2 separate regions of the Homo sapiens genome follow, and region 2 is linked to region 1. A link means that fine-mapping ties the variant in region 1 to the expression of a gene that starts in the linked region. Tissue or cell type: esophagus mucosa. Region 1 holds a variant in brackets; the other region holds the start of a gene. All regions are shown on one strand. Distances are from middle to middle.

Region 1 (8,192 bases):
ACAGTGATTCCTCAGGGATCTAGAACTAGAAATACCATTTGACCCAGCCATCCCATTACTGGGTATATACCCAAAGGATTATAAATCATCATGCTGCTATAAAGACACACGCACATGTATGTTTACTGCAGCACTATTCACAATAGCAAAGACTTGGAACCAACCCAAATGTCCAACAATGATAGACTGGATTAAGAAAATGTGGCACATATACACCATGGAATACTATGCAGCCATAAAAAATGATGAGTTCATGTGCTTTGTAGGGACATGGATGAAGCTGGAGACCATCATTCTCAGCAAACTATCGCAAGGACAAAAAAACCAAACACTGCATGTTCTCATTCATAGGTGGGAATTGAACAATGAGAAACATGGACACAGGAAGGGGAACATCACACAGTGGGAACTGTTGTGGGGTTGGGGGAGGGGGGAGGGATAGCATTAGGAGATATACCTAATGCTAAATGACGAGTTAATGGGTGCAGCACACCATCATGGCACATGTATACATACGTAACAAACCTGCACGTTGTGCACATGTACCCTAAAACTTAAAGTATAATAATTAAATGAATTAATTAACTTTAAAATAAAACATTTTATTAAATATGAAAAAAAAAAGAAGAAGAATCCATGGGAAAAACAGGGAGGGGTGTAAAGTTCTCCAGGGAGTGGTGAAGCAACTGAAGATTTCTTACCATTTTTCCATGAGGATAGTTGCTGATCTGGACCTTAATAGAGGCTGAGAATCAGGATCAGGACTTGCTAGATGGCTATTTACCAGGAACAAGAATTTATGAGAATTTGGATTCCCTGTATAAGGTTAGGATGACAAAATACAATTAGGTTATTTTGCCCTGACTTTCAAATTCATAGTGTTGTAATAATAAAATATATATTCATTTGTGCCTGGCTTCCTTTGTGCAACCTAGTGTTTTAGAGATTTATTAAGTTATTTATTATATCAGCAGTTTGTTCTTTTTAATATGATTGCTCAGTGTTACTTTGTATGAATATACCACAATTTGTTTATCTTTTCTGCTGTTGGACATTTGCATTGCTTCTAAGTGTTAGCTGTTATGAATTAAGCTCTATTAGGTTATTGTACATGTGCTTTGTGATTATATGCCCAGATTTATCTGAGTATGCACTTAGAAGAATTGCTATGTGACATAGTAGTCTATGTTTTATTTCAGTAGATAGTGTCAAAGAGTTTTCTAAAATGATTGTAAAAATGTTCCTTTCCACCAGCAAAATTCTGCGCATTTTCACTGACACTTAGTATTCATTATTTTTTACTTAAACATTCCGGTGAATGTGTAATTATAATCTTAGTTTGAATTTAATTTGCATTTTCCTGATGAATAATGATAGTAATGTAGTTGAGTTCCTTTTCATATATCTTTGGTTTGAATATGCTACTTTGTGAATTGCCTGATCATCTCTGCCATTTTAAAATTTGGATTGTTTACCTCTTCCTGATTGTTTTGTAGGAGTGTATTATGCATTCTGGATATAAGCCTTTTACCAGATTCTTGTATTGTAAATATTTTTTTCCAGTCTGTGGCTTGCTTATTCAATTCTTAATCATGATTTTGAGAAACAGAAGTTTTTAATTTTAATGTAATTCAGTTGAGTTTTATATTTGTTGTCATTGCTTTTCCTGTTTAAGAAACCTTTGCGTAATCCTAAGTCAGGAATATATTCTGTTTTTTTTTTTCCCCACACAAGTTTGACTGCTTTAATTTTAGATTTAGGTCTAAGATCAAATTCACATTTATATTTAAGAATAGTATGAAGTAAATCTCAAGGTTCATAATTTTTCCATATAGATAACCAAACATTCTACTGTCACTTACAGAAAAGTCCATCCTCTTTTGCTCTAATTAGGTGACTATATTGGAGTGACTGGAAATATGTGGGTATATTTCTAGGTTTTCTTTTCTGTCCATTGGTCTATTTGTCTAACAATGCACAATTAACTCCTCAATTAATATAACTTTATCATGTCTTGAAATTTGAGAATATAAGACCTCTAATGTTGTTCTTTGCTATTTAAGATTGTCTTCGTTTTTTGGGGGAACTTTTGTTTCTATATAAGTTTTATGATCAGCTCATCAATCTTCACCAAAAAAATTGCTGACATGTTGATTGCAACTATATTAAATTTATAGATCAATATTTAGTAATTTGGCATCTTAACAATATTGAACTTTCATAAACTTTCTAATGTTTTAAGTATTCTTTAGTTTCTCCAAATAACATTTCAACATTTTTAGAATAAAAGTCTTGTATATCTTTTACTGCATCATTACTATGTGAATTTTTATGAAATTATTAATCATATTTTAAATTTTTATTTATAATTGTTTATTGTTGGCATATACAAACACAAATAAATTTTCTACATTAACCTTGGATCCACCCAACTTCTTTAATCCATTTTTGAATTATAATGGTCTGTAGATTATTTTGAATTTTCTACATGAAATTATATCATCTTAGAATAAAAATTTACTCTTTCTGTATTAGTACGTATTACCACAATAATACTATGTAGAAAGTTGACTTTAAACTCACTGTTCTAATAATTATTCATATTGTGAATTTGAAAATCAGAGATTTAGGTTTGGTGGGATTTTTGTTTGTTTGGTTTGTGTTTTGTTTGTTTGTTTGTTTGTGTCTTCCTGAGTTACATTTTCTGTCTACAGTTGGCTGGCTATGCAGTGAAGCTCCATATGTCCCACATTCATTCTTCAGAATAACTTGGGCAAGTTCTCATGGTGAAAGTAGAGGTGCAAAGGTAAACAAGTCCAATTATCTAAGTATGTGCGAAGTCTCTATTTGTGTCTTGTTTACAAACAGCACGTGGCCAAAGCTATGAATCACAACATTAAGGGCTGAGTAAAATTTCCTGCCCAGACTTGGACAGTACTTGAAACTTGTATACGAAAAGAACAGATATAAAGAGGGGAGAAAGAATTTGGGCTGAAATTCAATCTATCACACTTTCCCAACCTAATAGCTCATATTTCTTTTTGTTTGATGAGTTAGTTCATCAGTACAATGCTGATAGGAAGACTGATAGTTAACATTTATGTCGTGTTTCTATATGTAATAGGAAGGATCTGGAGTACATTTTTGATGAATATAAAATTTTAAGTTTATGGTTTTCTTCTTTCAGCTCTTCAAGCATTTTTTCCTACTGTCTAATGAACAGTCTGTATTAATTTTAGTTTTGTTCCTGTCTTTATAAGTTTACCTGTTCTCTCTTTTTCAAAATAAACTGTTAATTTTAGAGCCATTTTAGATTTACAGAAAAATTGTGAAGAGAGTACAGAGTTGCCATTACCCCCAT[A/C]AATGCAGGTTTTTCCTGTTTTAACATCTTACATTAGTGTGGTAAATTTGTTACAATTAATTAGGCAATATTTATACATTAGTATTAAATACATCCATATTCTATTCAGATTTTGTTCATAATGTTCTTTTTTGTTCCAGGATTTCATCTGAATACCAAATTACTTTTGGTCATCATGTCTTCTTAAGCTCCTCTTGGCTGTGACACTCTCAGACAAGAATTTTGATAATCATGTTTTTATAACCTTGACAGTTTTCTAGAGTACAGTCAGGTATTTCCCACAATGAGAGTTGTATGATGCTTTCCTATAATTAGACTGGGATGATGGGGATACATGGAGGGAAGGCACAGAAGTAAGGCATGGAGGTAAATCATCGTGGAAAAGCTATTTTATCACAGTATGCCAAGTGTACATAACATTGTAGATGTAAACCATGATTACCTGGATGAGGTAGCAATTGCAGATTTTCTTACTGTAAAGTTATTCTTTTTCCTCCCTTGTTATATAGCACCATTTGGAAGCAAGTCACTACGCATAATTCACAATTGAGTAATAAAGATTTATGCTTCACCTCTTTGAAGGTAGAGTATCTACATATATTATTTGACATTCATCTCTATTTGTTCAGTCATTTATTCATATCAATATGGATTCATGGATAATTACATGGGTACTTTATACTTTGGCTTATAATACAATACCACCTTTTATTTTACTGTTCAGATGTTTCCAGCTTTGGACAATGGGAGCTCTTTCAGGTGACTCTTAGTCCCTTTGACATAATACATCATTGTGTTTAGTATGTTTGTTTCACTTTTTAAATTTTTCTTCATTTTCAAACACTATAAGATGCCAAAAACTCATCTTGCATATTAACTGCCCACGTCTTAGAATTAGATATTTCTCTAAGAAGCCCTGATTCCTTTTGTTGGTAGTGTCAGTCCTCCAAATTTGTTCTTCTTCATTATTAGGTTGATTATTTATTCTAGGTCTTTTATCTTCTCATATAAACTTCACAAAAAATTTTCTACTTTTTCCATTAAAGCCTTTAATATATTAATTATAGTTCATTTTAATCCCCTCTCTGATAATTTCATTGTCAACTTTATATCTGCATCTGGTTTTGATACTTTTTTTCTCTTCAGAATCTGTTCGTTCTTGCCTTTTGCCATGTTTAAAGTCAGACATGATGTATCAGGTAATAAAAACTGAAGTACACGTTTAGTGTAAAGGTTTTTGTTAATCTGGGTGCTTTAAACTGTATTTAATATCTGATGGGCTGTGCTTAATGTGTATGCGTCTGCAGGTGTCAGAGGTTTCAAATTTCTCCAGTGACCTTATTTTTGTGTCACTGGTTGACTTGGGCTTCCCTCAGTATTCCTCCTCAAATAATCTTTGTCTCACAACTCTTTTAGCTGAAATACAATGTATTATTTTAGAGCCCTGTTTTTTTGGTGGTAAGTTGTGAAGGAGAGGAAGCATTCTGTAATATTAAAATTAAATTTTGCTATTTTATTGGGCCTGTGCTCCTGGCTCTGACCTTCACAAGTGTTTCTTAAATTCCTTCTTTCACTGTGCATGAAACAGGAAGGCTCAAGAGGGTTGCAGTGAGAGTAAGCCCATTCCTCCAAGTAGGATAAAGCTATGGCAAAGCTTTATCCTGTGGACAGTAGGCGTTTGTAATAGAAGGATGCTGTTAGCTTATTTCTTTTTCCCTTCTTCTGCTAGAGCCACAAAAGGATCTTTTTCAGATCTTCACTATGAGGTCCTGGTAGGGTTCCTGGAGGTAAGACACACAATGTTCCACCTGCCCTTCCACTCCCCCTGCCTATTGCAGCCCCAGCAGTTTCTCATTCTTAAACTCATCTGCAATCAGCCATCAACATTTCATCAAAATGACCAATTAAGTGTATTTATCAATTTATGGCTCCAGTGGTTTTCACTCCAGGTAAGAAGATTTGTACTGTGACTCTTGATTCACATGTCTCTACATTTTGTGGTGATAAATTTTATCCTGCAAATAATTTCTTCTCTGATGAGTCCGAGAAAACTCACTGATTTTCAGTTTGTTGAGTTTTTTCTTTGGTGTAGAGATGAGAGTCACAACTTCCAAACTCCGTGTAGGAGCTGAAGTCAGAAGTATTTATTGCTTTAAAGATTTTGTAGCACTGTTTTCTAGCAATTTGATTATGGCACTACTTAATGTGGTTTTCACTGTGTTTATCCTCCTTGGCGTTTAGTAAAATTATTAAATAAGTAAGGTTGGAGTTTTATTTAAACCTGGAAACCATAGATGTTATTTTCTTCAAAAATTTTATGCTTGTCTTCCTTTTTTCTTGTGTTCTAAAGACCCATATGTTAGACCATCTGATACTACATACACTTGAAGCTCTGTACAATTTTTTTCAGTCTTTTTTTCTTATTTTTGCAGTATCTATTCTAATGTTAAATGTATCCAGTAAATTTTTTATTTTTTTCACTCTAGAAGTTCTACTTTGTCCTTTTAAAATAATTTTTATTTTCCTTCATTATTTTCTTGTATAACTTTACATTTTGAGCACATTAAACATAATATTTGTTTCAAAGTCTTTCCGTGATAATTTCATTGTTTGATTTTCTACTGGGTAAGGCTCACATATTTCCACTTCTTGTCATCATTATACCTATTTTACGGGAATTGCAATATTTTGAATGTATGTTGCTGTGTGTTAGGTCTGTTGTCTTCCTTTAAAATGTTGGATTTTGTACAGGCATGCAGCTGTTACTTGTGGATCAATTTGATTACTTGCAGGCTTATTTTAAAGCCTTTTGTAAGAGCTCATTTGGAATAGTTCTTACTCTGGGGATGGGTAATCCCTACTACCATACTATAGTTCTTTTCTGGTTTCTGCTGAATGTACTGAGTGATCAACAAATATTCACTCCGCCTTTCCAGAGCTCAGGTGGCTCACAGCACTATGAAAGCTGAGAAGTTTTTACCTTTCTGCTTACTAGGGGTCGTTTTACTAATCTTAAACTTCCACCTCATCCATGCATAGCTTAGTATTCAAGGGGATCCCTGTACAGATTTCTAGGGCTTGTTTCCTTAGTAATTCCCTCCCCTCTACAGCATCTCCCCAGTTTTTAGTCATTTCACCCTCCCTCAAATCTGATCCCTGTTTTCTCAACTCAACATATCCACTGCGCTCTATTTGTCGTCCATTTAATATCATGGTTAAGTGTGGTTAAGAATTTTTCTCTAGAAATAAAGCTAGTGGGATCCTGGGGCTCACCCTGCTTATGTGGCTTCTCTCAGTGACTACAGTCTTTTGCTGCTTGCTGTCCAAATTCTAAAAAAATTTCTGTCCTGTATTTGTTCAGCTTTTTAATTGTTTTGGTGGGAAGGTAAATTCAACCATTTTACTTCATAATGCTCACAAGCTAATTTTTACTTTATGTGCTGCCGAAGTGAACACTCCAGAAGCTAATTTTAAAATCAAACTTAAGTAAAAATAAAGGAATTATTGACCATCAGCTAAATATTTCTTTATTATATGAGGTTCTATCTTAAAAGCAATTTTCTCCCTAAGGTAAGAAATGAGATTATGAAGAACAGTAAGTGGTTGTAATCTCTTTTCTTTTTCCTTTTTTAATATGGTGTTTCAAATTTAAACAATATCTCTTCACTTTGATATGAAAAATAAGGACATTAGATCCTTTGCCTCATGCCCTTAGTTTATTAATTCCATTTTATATGTTTCATAACATTAACTTTGATTATATAGCCACAACTTGAGAAATTATCTTGTATCTGTTCTCTATTTAAATGGAATCACATGTCATCTACAATCATTTTATGATGGCTTTCCATTCCACTATTATTTTGACTTCTTATTTACCTTTTAATTAGCTCAAATTTATCACTCCTGGGTTTTTGTTTTGTTTTATTGTTTATAAGAAAGATTCATGCTATATTACTCATTATTATTCATGGGGTTGTTTTTTATAGTTGAGCATCTACAACTTTATCCTCACACCAGAATGAGGTTTGAGCTGGATCACAATTGGTTGTCTTTAGAACTTGGTAAATACTGCTTTTTCTTGATGTTGTGTGTCTGATTTTACTTTTTTAAAATACTGTACTTTTTGATTTACAGATACAGTTCTTTCTTCACTATAGGAGAAATTATCATAAGTATTTAAATGTATCTGCGATTTCATTTAATGACTTTCCTACTTCAAACGTAACTATTTTCATTAGGCTTATCTATATTCTGGATTTATCAGGTTCTTTCTGAATGGCCTAATTGATTTGCCTTCTTTATCTACATTGGTTAGAGTTATTCCAATCTTTTTCTCTATGATGAGAATTTCAGAAGTAACTAAAGTTTTGGCTGTGTTTATTTGTCAGTTTGAGATTATTGTTCTTTAGTGATTTTCTATGTTTTTGCAAGTCTGCAATCTCAATTAAATATACCTTTCAATCCTATGCTTAAAGTCGAAGCTTACTAAATTAGTCATACCAAATTATTCTACATTTTGCAGTGATTGGATATAACTCTTGATTCGTGAATATTTTCTTCAGCACTGTGTACTTCGTCTACCTTTTTGCATACTATGCTCTTGCTATTTGTTCTTGTTTGATACTTATGAAGCACAATTGCCACACCATTTTTTTCTTATATTGCTCACTTTTGGGCAGCAGTTTTCACATTCTCTCTTCTCACTTTTTTTTTTTACATCTCTCAAGAGAGATGTAAAAACATTTCCTTGAAATAAACATTAAATTTTAGTTTGTTATTTTGTGCAGTATTTCCCCTTGTATAGCCTAATGGTGGTGGACTGTGGAAA
Region 2 (8,192 bases), 120 kb before region 1:
TTTCAGTTTTAGCAACTTTAGACTTTTAAAACAAGATTTAAAAATGATATCTAATATTACTGTAATCAGAGTTTCAAACAGAAGTAGAGTATAACATGAAAAAAGAGACCCTATTTGTGAGAGAGACTCCTAAAATTCTCTACAGCCTAGGAAACCCAAATTAACTTTTTGTCTGTTTTTGACATAACAGTGACTATCCATTTAACAGAGTAGAGTGCACGGTCTGAAATATAATTCTTCAAGTAGCCTCTTTTATAAAGAAAAAGAAAATACAGCACCATCTGGTAAAAATAAAATAAAGTTTGTAGTGAAGCAGGGGAACCAGGACGGTATCAGGCACGGTATTGTCTCCTTTTCTCCTTAATAAAGTCATTTTATGGATCTTATGTATTTTGCATTGTAGAGAAAGCACTTTTTCTTAGAACACACAAAACGCATATAAACACAGATAAGGAGGCTCTAGCAAGATGCTTTGAACTCTTTGGAAAGCACCTATAGAATGCATTCTTGTCAATATTTTATATGGTAAAACTTTGAAATATCACAAGAGTTTCAAAATGTTCCCAACAAAATTGAAAGTCATACATTGTTACATCATGAAAAAGTGGGACCTGAACCAGATAATAATTTTCTAGGTCATGCAAATATTCATGGTTTTACTTCCTTCTCATTAAAATACCCATACCAAACCTATGATAAGGCATAGGTTTCAGACTCAGACAGACCTGAATTCAAATTTGACCCTTTCGGCTCCAAGTCTTGGGTAAATTATTCATTCTCAGAGAGTTGTGGTTTCTCTTTTGATCCTCATTTGTTAAAACAGGCAATTTTAATTATATCTCATGGTGGTTGAGATGGTTAAATGAGATGATTTATATAATGTCCATTGGACAGCACATAGTATATAGTAATTGCACAACAAATATGTGGTTATCAGTTCATTTAGGATTTATCCATGCAATTATTAAACCAGTGCATTGGGAGTAAAATTCTTCACAGACACATGAACTCTCTAAAAATCTAATAGAAGTGGATAAATTAAAAACACAGGGTGTTTATAACTTGCTATATGCATAAAGTAAATATGAAATATTCTAATACTCAATTATTCCATTTTTACTTTTTATTTATATATATAAACTCACAAATTTGTTTTTACATGTAAATATAAATTTTATATATTATATGTAAATATACCTTAAATATAATACTTTACATATTATATAGATATATAAATAAATATAAATGCACTTTAAAATATACTCAGTGGTAATTTAAACTTGGATGCTACTGGCTATTTCAGTAATCAGAAGTTTAGATTTTCACATTTCAACCATCAGCTTTTACTGCTTTATTCTCTGATAATGTATTTTACAATTTTGTTTCAGGAAAATAGTATTAGTTTTACCACTACTAACTTGTGGTCCCATCTTTGGCAGCTACTACCTCAAAACCATCTTTATAATAATCAGAAATTAGAATTCCAAATAAGTCATTTAAATTCATTTGTCAAACTGCTCCTTTTCCAGGCTTTCCAAAAGATGCTAATAAATGGTAATTATCTTCAGGTATTAGCAAAAAAATCTAATTTTAAAATTTGGGAACCTATTTATTACCATTCTCAGTATTAAATATCTTTCCCAGTTAAAAGGATGAAATCTGTAGATTCCCTCCTCCCCATTTTGCAATCCATCAACTTTACAGAAAACTATTGATTGTTTTCCAGTGAATATAAAAACATAACTAATATGTAGTGAATTATTATGAGCTCGCCACTGACTAAAGCACTTTAAATGTATTAATATTATCTCATTTAACTTCAAATTAATGACTCTTTTCCCCTACTTTTAGATAATGATACTCAGAGAAGTAGAGAAGCTGGCCTAACATCACAAACCTATGCTGTTGTGGAGCTGGCATTTGAAACCAGGTGTTTTCATTACATTCTCTGATTTTAAATACTTTCAAAAAAGCAGGAAATCTACATGGACTTCAAAGAAAATTGCCTAAGAATATCTTCTTTGAATGCATGCTTTTAACATTAATGTTTTTTCAGGATTATTATATCAACTGGATTTCTCACACTCAGTTTCAGTTTCTTCACCACTCAAATATGCATAGTTTCTCCTCCTTGGGTAGAAGCCACAGTGTTCCTCAGTTACAAGGAGTGCTTTATATGAGAAATGGCATAAACAACTGTTGATACTTGTTATGGAGAAAAGTCAAATAACTCAGAAGCATGTGAAATCTGAAGTTTAATATTTTGAAAGAGTTGCTATGTAGAAAACAGGTGGCAGAACTAGAACCCATGGAGGAAAATTAAGGGATGAAGATTTTGGTTCAACACCAGAAAAAAATATTTTTAAAAAGAAATGTAATTAGTGTTGTCTAAATCATAATTGAACAGTCTCAGGAAGCAATGAGCTCTCTGTGGATAAACTCATATTCTGGAATGTAATAAGGCAAAGATGTAATAGAAAATGATCCAGCAATAGATGGGGATAGAAAAAATATAAGCATATAGTTATATAGTTTGTGTCAGTTTCCTCATGATTGTCAAGGGTTGGTGGAGGGTTAGAGAAGAGGAGGTCGCAGGATGCTATGGATTGAATATCTGCATACCCTTACCCCCAAATCAAGTTAGTATGTTGAAGTTTAATCATTAAAATGATGGTATTTATAGGTGGAGCCTTTGGGAGGTAATTAGGACATGAGGGTGGAACCCTAGGAATGAGATTCATGCCCTTATAAAAAGAGATATGAGAGGGCTTGTGTCCTGTCCGCTTTCCTCCATGTGTGTTAGATTGAGCAGCTAAAACAGATACACCATACATTGGGTAGCTTATGTGACCACACAGTTCTGGAGGCTGGGAAGTCCAAGATGAAGGTGTCAGTAGATCTAGTGTCTGGTGAAGGCTGGCTTCCTGGTTTGCAGATGGCTGCTTTTCCCTTATATTCCCACATGGAGGAAAGCCAAAAGAAGCAAGCCCTCTCATATCTCTTTTTATAAGGGCACTAATCTCAGATGAGACAGAGCAACATAGAATGAAAAAATAAAAAGAACAAAATAGGGAGCATGAAATTTTAGTGACTTGACAAACAATAGACATTTTTCTTTCTCTGCTCATACATCGACAGAAACTGGGAATATTTTTGTCATATTCTGCCACACTTGAACAAATTTCAGTGGAGGCATCATAACTGAGCCTGTGTTAAGACCAAACCTTTACTTGACTTACAAAACTTTCTGTGAGTTTTTTTCTTAGTATGGTTGATTTCTTCAAGAAAAAGGATGTAAGTTTACCAATAAGGTATTTAAAGTACAAGTTACTTAATTCTTTATTAGCAAATAGTTGGCTGCTAATTTTTGCTTCTGAAAACACTTAATAATTAAAGGCTACAATATTTATATCTCAAGAAACGTCTCAGGTTTTTTCTCGTCACTAAGCTTAAATCTTACTCTTAAGCAAAAATATTTTAAATTTGAAAACATACATTGTATTTGACTATTAGCTTTTTTTTTAAAGAGAAGTCATTAAACTTAAAGCTAAAAATAAATTTTATATTTATGTGTAGCAGTTACCATATTGATGTGCTAAAAAGTTTATAGATTTAGCTACCGCAATAACAACTTTCTAATCAAAAGTTGAGACTGTTGTGAACAACTCTTTTGTGAATATAACCTAGCATTGTACAGTATAGATTGACTATCGCATATGCAAAATGCTTGGAACCAAAAGTGTTTCAGATTTCAGATTTTTTTTTTTTCAGATTTGGGAATATTTATTTGCATATGCATAATGAGACATCTTAAGGATGGGACACAAGTCTAAACACAAAATTCATTTATGTTTAATATACACTGTATACACAAAACTGAAGATAATTTTATATAATATTTTACGTAACTTTGTACCTGAAACAAAGTTCTGTCTGTGTTTTGACTGAGATTTGTCATATGAAATCAAGTGTGGAATTTTCCACTTGTGGCATCATGTCAGCAATCAAAAAGTTTAGATTTTGGAGCATTTCCAGTTTTGAACTTTTGGATTAGAGATGCTCAACCTGTATTTCCTACAAACTGTCATTAGGAAAAATCAGAAGACTAATTATTGTCTAAATTTTACCGTCTAGAATTTCTAATATCATTCAGCATTTTCAACTTTTTTCTTAATAGTTTCATATTGGACTGCTTGCTTCAAATTCACACATTAACCTAATAATTAAAAGCTAGTGGAAAGAATTATCAGATTAAAGCCTTAATTTCTACAAAGCATAAGTTAATAGAGAAAAACAAGTGCAAAGAGAGGCACCAGGTGGTTCATAGGACCTTCAGGTAAAACAAATGAGATTTTATTAGGCTTACAGATAGAATTTTTGCCTGTGTGTCAAGGGATAACAGGAGTGTTGATTTGAGTGGCTTATGAAACAGGCATGTTTAGCTCAGCAATATTACTCATCACTTGGCTTTTTAATCTGCCAAGAGATGGGTACGATTTGCACTTATGAACTGTGTGTAATTATGGTGATTCAGGTTTTGGCTTATAATGAATCCTCCATCACAGTCTGTTTTCTCGGTCTTTTATTTTCTGTTCCTCTAAGGGAAGAGAGACCAAAGAGAATTCTACTTTGACCCTGGCTTAAGAGTGGAACATAGATGTCTATAAAACTATGTGGTATGTACATTTATAAAAATTTTAATTTGCATTTTCTCTAGGTTTTATGTTTTTGGTGATAACAGAATAAAGTGTGCATGCCATCCAAGATAAATGGATGAAGGAAGTTCACTTCTTTTTAATTATCTTATACTGACAGATAAAGCAAAATAGAAAAAAAATTCTGTATTTAACCTTAACAAGCTGAGACACACTAGAGAAGTGGAAAATAGATTGTGTGCATCTGATCGTGCTGCACATTCCCTTTAGGTTGCAATCTCTGCTGTTATTACCGACAACAACTGAGACTACAGTTTTAACTCTGTATTTACTTCTAGTTATCCCACAATTGGTACATAGTATTGGATGGAGCCCTGTATTTCAAGGAGTTCAACTACCTAATTTTCATAGCTGAGATAACTAAGTTTCTGAGTCCGTTTTCCTTTTTCCAGTCTGATCTCTCCTTTTCTCAAGGCTACTTTCGTTTCTGATAACATACTAAAGGTTATAGGATTTATCGGTATTTTGCCTCCTGGGGTCATTTGTTATTAAAAAAGAAACTCTATTCAAATAACTGAATCTCTACTATTGGATTTTCCAAAGCTATGATAGACCAGCTAGTGAAACTATTTTGTACTGGAATTTGGCAGGGTGATGGGGTGGGGAGAAGGTGTGGAGAGGAATTCTTGTCCTCAGTCCTGATATTTCTTTCCAGGTGAATGTGGTCTTCCGTGTGCTACACTCCTTGCCTCTCTCTGCTCTTCTATTCACTATCTACCAGAGAAGATGGAGTGATTCACTCTGATTAATAAATTTGGAAAAAATCAATTAGACATGCTCCGAATAGTTCCACCCTTTTTGTCTTAGAAGACAGCTGCCCTCAGAGAGCAAGATTTTACCTTTGTAAATTGGTACACATGATCTAGCTTAGCATTGCTTTTAACAGGGGGAAGTCTGTATAATTCCTGGATTATTATCATGCCAGTGGGTTCTCATATTATACTTTATCCTCCAAATTAATTTTTTGTGGTGAAATTGATGCTTTTACTTCTTTTCTTTTCTTTTCTTTTTTTTTTTTTTTTTTTGAGACGGAGTCTCACTCTGTAGCCCAGGCTGGAGTGCAGTGGTGCCATCTTGGCTCACTGCAAGCTCCGCCTCCCGGGTTAGCGCCATTCTCCTGCCTCAGCCTCCCGAGTAGCTGGGACTACAGGCACCCGCCACCACGCCCGGCTAATTTTTGTATTTTTAGTAGAGACGGGGCTTCACTGTGTTAGCCAGGATGATCTTGATCTCCTGACCTTGTGATCCACCCGCCTCGGCCTCCCAAAGTGCTGGGATTACAGGCGTGAGCCACCGCGCCCAGCCGATGCTTTTATTTCTATCTTCTCATTTGTGTAAAGTGAATAATGATATCTCACTGTGATTTCTAGTTCATTTTTGTGACTCACAAATATAGATACTACTTCCGTTATATTACCTGTTTATTTTCTTATGTGAATTGCTTTCTCATACCCTTTTCTAAATTTTCTCTTCAGTACTTTACAAAGGGATTTGAAAGTGAGTTTGGTGATAATACGAAAGTATTTCAAGTGGACAAAGTGCAAATAATAGTATCAGTTGATGTTAGCATACACACACAGGAATGTCTTCTTTTATAGTAAAATTTATTTATTTATTTATTTATTTATTTATTTATTTATTTATTTATGACAGAGTCTTGCTCTGTCGCCCATGCTGGAGTGCAGTGGCCCTATCTCGGCTCACTACAAGCTCAGCCTCCCAGGTTCACGCCATTCTCCTGCCTCAGCTTCCCGAGTAGCTGGGACTACAGGCGCCCGCCACCACACCTGGCTAATTTTTTGTATTGTTGTTAGTAGAGACGGGGTCTCACCGTGTTAGCCAGGATGGTCTGGATCTCCTGACCTCGTGATCCGCCCGCCTCGGCCTCCCAAAGTGCTGGGTATAGTAAAATATTGAGTGTGTGTGTATATGATAGAGAGAAAATAATACTAATTTTAAGAGAGTTATATGAAAATTCTTTTAGATTTCTAAGGAAAAGACTGACTCGAACAAATGGACATTTTAAGAAAGCTATTGCTACTTAGTAATGTATGAGTCAAATGGATAGAAACTCCACTATTTGATGTGAGGTGTCTAGAATGTTGGGAAAGTGTTAATTCAATAGTGCTGTAGACAAAAAGTTTTCCACATTGATCCTATTTGTTCACCCATCTCCCTCCACCTAGGGGAACTACTTTTTAAAAGATGTTATGTTGTTCAAATTTCATATATAACCAATGTAAGTGAGCCATTAGTGTTTTTGGAGTATGAGGTAATAGATTCCTGTCCCCCACCAACTCCCTTATTTATCCCCTTTATGATTTCCTCACATAGCTAATAATGCAACAAGAAGAGCTTTAGGGGTGCAGAGAACTCAGAAATATCCCATTGCAATAGAAGGATATGTTTCCTTTTAAGGTAGCTCCGAAACAGCCCATTATATAATCATTTTGTCCCAAAGCAGTGGCTTTCATACTCACCCTGCCCATGGGCCTGACCATAACTGTTATTTCACTAAATCAGGTTATTTTTGGAGTGCCCAATTCTAAGTTGGCTGCTACTGGTGACATACATTTCATTATAGTTTGAGAGTTGTCAATATAAATACTCCACTCATAGACACCAAGAAGGTTCTTAGGAGGCAAGATCTAATCTTTAGAAAAATTTTATTGACATTTCATAAAATATTTATTTAAAGCTTGAGAAGGAAACTTTCTGGCTGTTAATGTTTTTCAGCTACCAATGAGTCTAACTCACGCATCTTTTTTCTTTTGGTTGCAATTATTATACAACCTCCTGCACGCCCGCTCCATTGCACCTGCCTCTCAAAACCTAAAGAAAAAAGATTTAAGCAGCTAAAATTTTAATAAAATATGGAACAGTCACATGAATTTCTGAACTTTAAAATGGGGAAAACAATCATAGGCTCTGATGGCTAATTTCAGAATCCTTTACATTTCATAATGAAAATTTCTATGTATAAAGATTCAAACTATTTGGAGACTTACATTTCAAAGGATAATTCTACTTTTTAGGCACTGTAACTTATTTTTATCCAAGAGAAAGAAGAAATGGTTAACTGAAAAGATTTAGTGACAGTGTTGTGATAGGAGTCAAAACGTCTCTAGTTGGCATAAGCATAGGAAAATAACTTTGTTGCAAAACACTTGAGCTCTGTTTGCAGAAATGAATGGCTAGCGGATATTTTTGTTCTCTCTGTTATACTAATGGATAAAGGCATGCTGATAAGTCACTGTAGCTCTGTGGGGTTAATGCCAGAATGAAATACCAGAGCTGTACTCTTTCTTAGGAAATAGCAGATTCTTACAGACATGATCACAACACATTTTACAGACAAACTACATTGCCTCATGTACTGTAGCCCCTATTCTGTGCTTTGGGGGTCACCACAATAATTTCTCTTAGAAATTTCCTAATTTCAATAAAGCCTACCATGGAAACTTATTTGGTTGTTTG

The links. PIP is the estimated chance that this variant, and not a neighbour inherited with it, causes the effect.
Region 2: LINC01239 starts here. The variant in region 1 is fine-mapped to the expression of LINC01239 in esophagus mucosa (GTEx, PIP 0.97).

The regions. Positions count from the first base shown.
Region 1 is chr9:22,764,461-22,772,652 of GRCh38, forward strand. The region is part of intron 4 of LINC01239 (long intergenic non-protein coding RNA 1239); the gene reads left to right. Among named protein-coding and RNA genes, the nearest start is that of LINC01239, 120 kb to the left of the region's middle. The variant A/C (reference allele first, on the strand shown) is at 3,362.
Region 2 is chr9:22,641,621-22,649,812 of GRCh38, forward strand. LINC01239 (long intergenic non-protein coding RNA 1239) reads left to right here and starts at 4,580. Exons shown (of 6, transcript NR_038977.1): 1 at 4,580-4,676.